2 separate regions of the Homo sapiens genome follow, and region 2 is linked to region 1. The links come from fine-mapping of genetic effects on gene expression. A gene starts in region 1. The other region holds a variant in brackets. All regions are shown on one strand. Distances are from middle to middle. Region 1 holds the start of P2RX6 (purinergic receptor P2X 6). Region 2 overlaps LZTR1 (leucine zipper like post translational regulator 1).

What was found. PIP is the estimated chance that this variant, and not a neighbour inherited with it, causes the effect.
Region 2: its variant is the best candidate, but not a certain one, in a credible set for the expression of P2RX6 in gastroesophageal junction (GTEx, PIP 0.81).

What each region holds. Positions count from the first base shown.
Region 1 is chr22:21,013,437-21,016,436 of GRCh38, forward strand. It overlaps P2RX6 (purinergic receptor P2X 6), which reads left to right and starts at 1,729. Exons shown (of 12, transcript NM_005446.5): 1 at 1,729-1,902; 2 at 2,506-2,656. The coding sequence starts at 1,739. It also overlaps the pseudogene TUBA3FP. RefSeq lists an enhancer at 609-758.
Region 2 is chr22:20,993,292-20,995,906 of GRCh38, forward strand. It overlaps LZTR1 (leucine zipper like post translational regulator 1), which reads left to right. Exons shown (of 21, transcript NM_006767.4): 12 at 371-463; 13 at 633-728; 14 at 813-978; 15 at 1,267-1,436; 16 at 1,579-1,735; 17 at 2,455-2,581. Among named protein-coding and RNA genes, the nearest start is that of THAP7-AS1, 7.3 kb to the right of the region's middle. The variant C/T (reference allele first, on the strand shown) is at 1,334.

The DNA.
Region 1 (3,000 bases):
TTAAATTAGCCAGATGTGGTAGCCCCCTGTAGTCTCAGCGACTCAGGAGGCTGAGGCAGGAGGCTCACCAGAGTGCAGAGTTCAAGGATGCAGTGAGCTATGATCCTGCCACTGCACTGAAAGCTGGGTGACAGAGCAAGACCCTGGCTCTAATAAATGAATACATAAAGTCTCACAGCTAGTGGTAGCTAATCCTGCCAGAGTCAGGCCTCTACCTGTCTGATGACAAATGGCACACTATGTCTTTTAACCTGATTGCAGACCACAAATGTTTTGTGAATATTTTCCCCAGGGAAAAAACCGGAAGTAGTTCTAAATTCTATACATCCATTATATTAGTTTTACCTGTGGATTGGGAAAACCCAGCTCTGATTGCATTTCAGGGCGGGACAGCCTTTGGTGCACTGTCTGGCGGGATTTTCCATTTTAACCTCCTTCTAGAAGCGCCTTCTCATGGTAAAGTTCCTGATGCCGCCAGGAGCGCCGAGGAGAGGGCAGGGGGCTGGAGACGCCCCGCAGAGGGCTACGTGCCCTGCTGGACAGAGGTCTCCTGCCTCCTCGGCGGCGCCAGCCCACCTCCCACAACCCCTGCGGGAGAAGCCCCCAAGGGGAGGAGACGGGCCTGGCCCCTGCCCCGAGCACCTTCCGTCTCTAGGTCGGAGTCTGAATCGGCCTTGGGACCCTGCTTGGCTTCGGGGACCCCTGCAAGACGTCCACAGGCCGCCGTCGCCTCTTCCTCCTGCTTTTTATCCTCCCCAGACCTCTGGCAGGAACCGCTCATCGTTACGCCCCTTTCGCAGCCTCAGACCCTGAGGCGGAGACCGCTTGGCGCCTCACTTAGAGCGCGACCCGGGGATGTGGGCGGAGTCTGCGGCTGCGCTGACCAATCGAGTGTGGCGTCCATCGACTGGCGTCTGCCACGGCAATTAGCGACGCGCTCCCCCGCGGCGGTCGCCCCGGCAACCCAGTGCTGTAGGTTGCCGTAGAAACCGTGGCTCTCCTGCGCTGAGGCTCCTCGCCTGAGAGGATAAACTGCACGCGCCACGGGCTATGCACTGGGCTGGGCGCCTTGTGGGCATCCTCCCTGCCTTCCTAGGGGGTTCCAGCATCGCCCCCCTTTCGTGGACTGGGAAACACGCCTGACTCCAGGACTTGTGTTGTCCTCACTGCACTGGGGAAGGTGGCGGGGGCAGCTTTTCAGGAGGGCCTGGGGAACTTCGCAGAGCCAGGTCACCCTCTCACTCTGTGCCTCTTAGTTATCTTGCATGCTCTGGTCTTTGCATACGCTGCTCCCTGCACCAGGAACCTCCATCCCCATCTTTGTCTGCTTGTCGAACTTCAGAAATCTGCAAGGGTCAGCTTAGAGGTCACTTCTTCCGGAAGCTTTCCTCAACACCCTCCCCGCCCTGCTGCTGCTGCCCTCAGGCCCTCCTCTCACAGCACTGATAACAGCTGTCCGTCTCCACCCTCCCACCACCTCCACTCCCACCCCAGGAAGTGAGGCCAGAGGGCAGGGACAGAGCTGCTGCTGTTCTCTGTGTGCCAGGGCCCAGCAAAGGGAATGTAGGGAGGGTGGGAGGTGCAGGGCAGCTGGGATTAGGGGTTGAGGGCTGGGTGTTGGAGGCTGGATCTGGATCCTGCTTTAGTGGAAGTGTCCCTTTAACAGCAACTGGCCTGGCCTGGCTCGGGCCCTGCTTTGCCTCCTGTTCAGCTGCGGCTGCAGCTGCCATGCTGACTCATGTGCCCGCAGCTAGCAGGAGCTGGCAGCATGGGCTCCCCAGGGGCTACGACAGGCTGGGGGCTTCTGGATTATAAGACGGAGAAGTATGTGATGACCAGGAACTGGCGGGTGGGCGCCCTGCAGAGGCTGCTGCAGTTTGGGATCGTGGTCTATGTGGTAGGGTAAGAGAGAAGAGCTTTTGGCCAGGCTGGAGGGGCAAGGGAAGAGGTGGGGGGTGGGGCTTGGTCCTGCTGGGTTGAAGTTGAGGGTTGGGCTGTTTAGGGGCTGGAGTGGAAGGGGGCAGATTGGGACGGGGTTGGGGAGAGCTAGGCGATACAAGACAGGAGAGCAAGAACAAGCTGTGTGTTTGTCCTGTGTGTCCACTTGCCTCCTTCCCAGGCCCCCACCCAGGCCCCACCCAGGGGGCACATGACATAGTCCTTAACATCTGTGAGAGCTGGAGCACTAGGCCCCCAGAGAGACCACCAGCTGTATCTCGGGTCAGGAGAGTCTGTAAGGGGGAAGCTGGATCTAGTCAGGCTGGGGGTGGGTGCTGGCTAGTGAAGGTGATTGTCTGAGGGCATTGGCTCTCTGATGCATGGCTGGAGCTTCTGTCTCATTCAGGGGGTCTGGAGTGGGAAGTGGGGCCAGAGAGGAGGTGGGGCCTTCGATGTTGGGCCGGGAGCCTGTAGGGTGTGGGGGGAGAACTGAGCATGTAGGGCTCAGCTCCGCCCCTGTCACTACACGCTGGGGACACACCACACTGCCCGACTTCTCCTCCCCAGGTGGGCTCTCCTCGCCAAAAAAGGCTACCAGGAGCGGGACCTGGAACCCCAGTTTTCCATCATCACCAAACTCAAAGGGGTTTCCGTCACTCAGATCAAGGAGCTTGGAAACCGGCTGTGGGATGTGGCCGACTTCGTGAAGCCACCTCAGGTGGGGGCCCTGATGTTGCTGACGGGGGCGCAAGTCCTTTCCCCACTGACAGCCTGAACACCCGCCATGCAGCCAGTGTGTGCGAGAGAGAAGCATGTGATGCCAGAGACGGCTGCGGGTTCTCAGGAAGGGCTTCACAGAGGAGTGGCACCTGGACAGGACTTTCAGGGATGTGTAGGAGGTTTTGGGGTGGAAAAAGGGGCCACTCAAGAAGCCAGGCCAGGGTTGGACGTGCTGGCTCACGCCTGTAATCCCAGCACTTTGGGAGGCCAAGGCAGGTGGATCACGAGATTGAGAGTATCCTGGCTAACACGGTGAAACCCCATCTCTATTAAAAATACAAA
Region 2 (2,615 bases), 20 kb before region 1:
TGAGGTCAGGGCCAGCTTCCTGGAGGAGGTTGGGATGTGCTGGTGGGGGCCAGTGTGAGGACGCAGGTCCAGGCAGAGTGGAGACGGCAGAGCTCTGCTGAGGCCTGGGGCCCAGCCGAAGGCAAGAGAGGCAGGGGAGCCCTTTCCTGCTGTGGAGCCGGCCGTGGACAGTTGCAGGTGCTGAGGCTGGAGCCAGGCTGTATTTTCAGGGTGGGGTAGCGGCTGCTTCCTCTCCTCAGCCAGGCCCACCTGCCTCCTGGGCCCTGAGGGTCAGCATGGGCCAGGTGGGGACCTCAGGGTCGGCCTGCACAGCCACACTGGGGCCACCCTGCTGTCTGCAACATCTAGTCTCACTGGGCCCCTCTTGCAGTTCTCCTGTTACCCTAAATGCACGCTGCACGAGGACTACGGGCGGCTGTGGGAGAGCCGCCAGTTCTGCGACGTGGAGTTCGTGCTGGGTGAGGTGGGTGCCTGTCCTCGCACCCTGCTCTGCCTGCTGTGCCTGGGCAGTGGGAATTTCGCCCCTCAGAAAAACAGCTGCTGGCCTGGTGGTGCTGACCTTGGCTGGCTGGGTCTCTGTTCTCTGGGGCGAGGGTCCTGTGCCCTCTGCCAGTGCATCATTCTTTGTGCAGAAGGAGGAGTGCGTGCAGGGCCACGTAGCCATTGTCACAGCGCGGAGCCGCTGGCTTCGCAGGAAGATCACGCAGGCGCGGGAGAGGCTGGCCCAGGTGAGGTGCCTAACCGCCCTGCCCTGACCTGGCAGCCATGCCTGGTGTCCACTGGGGTGTCCTTGAGCTCCCTTCTCCCCACAGAAGCTGGAGCAGGAGGCCGCCCCAGTTCCCAGGGAGGCCCCCGGCGTGGCTGCTGGTGGGGCCCGGCCGCCCCTGCTGCACGTGGCCATCCGGGAGGCCGAGGCCCGGCCCTTCGAGGTGCTCATGCAGTTCCTCTACACCGACAAGATCAAATACCCACGGAAAGGTCCGCCTGGGTGGGGGTGGAGCAGGGTTGGTGTGGGCTGGGGTGCGGGCAGCAGAGCCAAAAGGTGGGTGCTGCCAGCCCTGCCTTACTGATGGGCCCCCTGAGGCTCAGAGGCTGCAGGTCACCCTCCTTACCCATGATCACTGCAGCTGGACGCCATCTGAGTCCCCCGAGGCCTTGTTCCTACCTAGTGGCCCCAGCCCACACTCTTCCATGGGGGGAGCCCTGCGCCCTGTGCCCTGCCCTCCCCTCTCCGGCTCCCTGAGATTCGGGGGCTCTGGGGCGCAGGCCATGTGGAGGATGTGCTGCTCATCATGGATGTGTACAAACTGGCACTGAGCTTCCAGTTGTGCCG[C/T]CTGGAGCAGCTGTGCCGCCAGTACATCGAGGCCTCCGTGGACCTGCAGAACGTGCTGGTTGTGTGCGAGAGTGCCGCCCGGCTGCAGCTGAGCCAACTCAAGGTGTGGGGTGGGGTCAGCGCAATCAGGGTTGGGTGGGGTGTGCTCAGGCTTAGGCCCCCTCCCTGCCCACCACTGTGAGCCCCTCGCCCAGCCTGGGGCCCTGGCTTGACTCTGCCTGCCTGCCTGTGCCTGTCTGCCCCAGGAGCACTGCCTGAACTTCGTGGTAAAGGAGTCCCACTTCAACCAGGTGATCATGATGAAGGAGTTCGAGCGCCTCTCCTCTCCACTGATAGTGGAGATTGTGCGGCGGAAGCAGCAGCCGCCCCCTCGCACTCCCTTGGACCAGCCAGTGGACATTGGTAGGGAGCCCCGTTCCCCTTCCCTGGGGGCTGGGAGGGATGGTGTTCATCTGCGGTAGGAGATTGGGAGCCATGGAGAGCACCTGCCAGGCCCTCGGGGTGGGGGTGGGTGCCATGGGACCCCAGAGTGCTCTCCTGGGTACAGGGAGGAAACAGATGAAGGCAGAAGCCCCCGACCCATGGGGCTTGCCACAGTGGGCTGTGTCCTGGTGACCTGGGATTTCCTGAGCCAATTTCTGGGGGTGGACATGGGGCACCTCTTTCGGGCTAGGATGTCAGGTCTGATGGCCCAGGGTCACGGTGATCAGTCTCTGGACTTCTCTTTGCTTGTAATGTCACAGGCCCCTTCATTCCCCCAGCTCTCCCTGGGGCTTGTGCTGACCCCGGTTGCTGGCTCTTGGTGATGTCTGCAGGCACCAGAGGCCATGCAGTGGGCCTGGAGGGGGCTTGATCATGAGGTCAGCGAGGGGGTACAGCAAGCTGGGTGGAAGATGAGACGCTGGGTGGTGGGCTGTGCGTGGGGCATAGTGCTTGAGTCGGCCAGGGCGCCGAGGGAGGACAGAATGTGGCTGATGGTACCTCAGGGCGAGTGAGGCCTTCTGCCTGGGTGAAGTTTTGTTCAGGGCAGCAACATGGGCAGATATGCAGGAAGGTAGTGCCGTGGGGCCCCAAGGCCAGAATCCCAGGCTGTACCTGCTCAGGGACCCTCCTACCCCCAGGCACATCTCTGATCCAGGACATGAAGGCATACCTGGAGGGAGCGGGCGCGGAATTCTGTGACATCACTCTGTTGCTTGACGGGCACCCACGGCCAGCCCACAAGGCTATCCTGGCCGCCCGCTCCAGGTGGGTGGGGGCTGGACAGGAGGGGAGGGTGGGC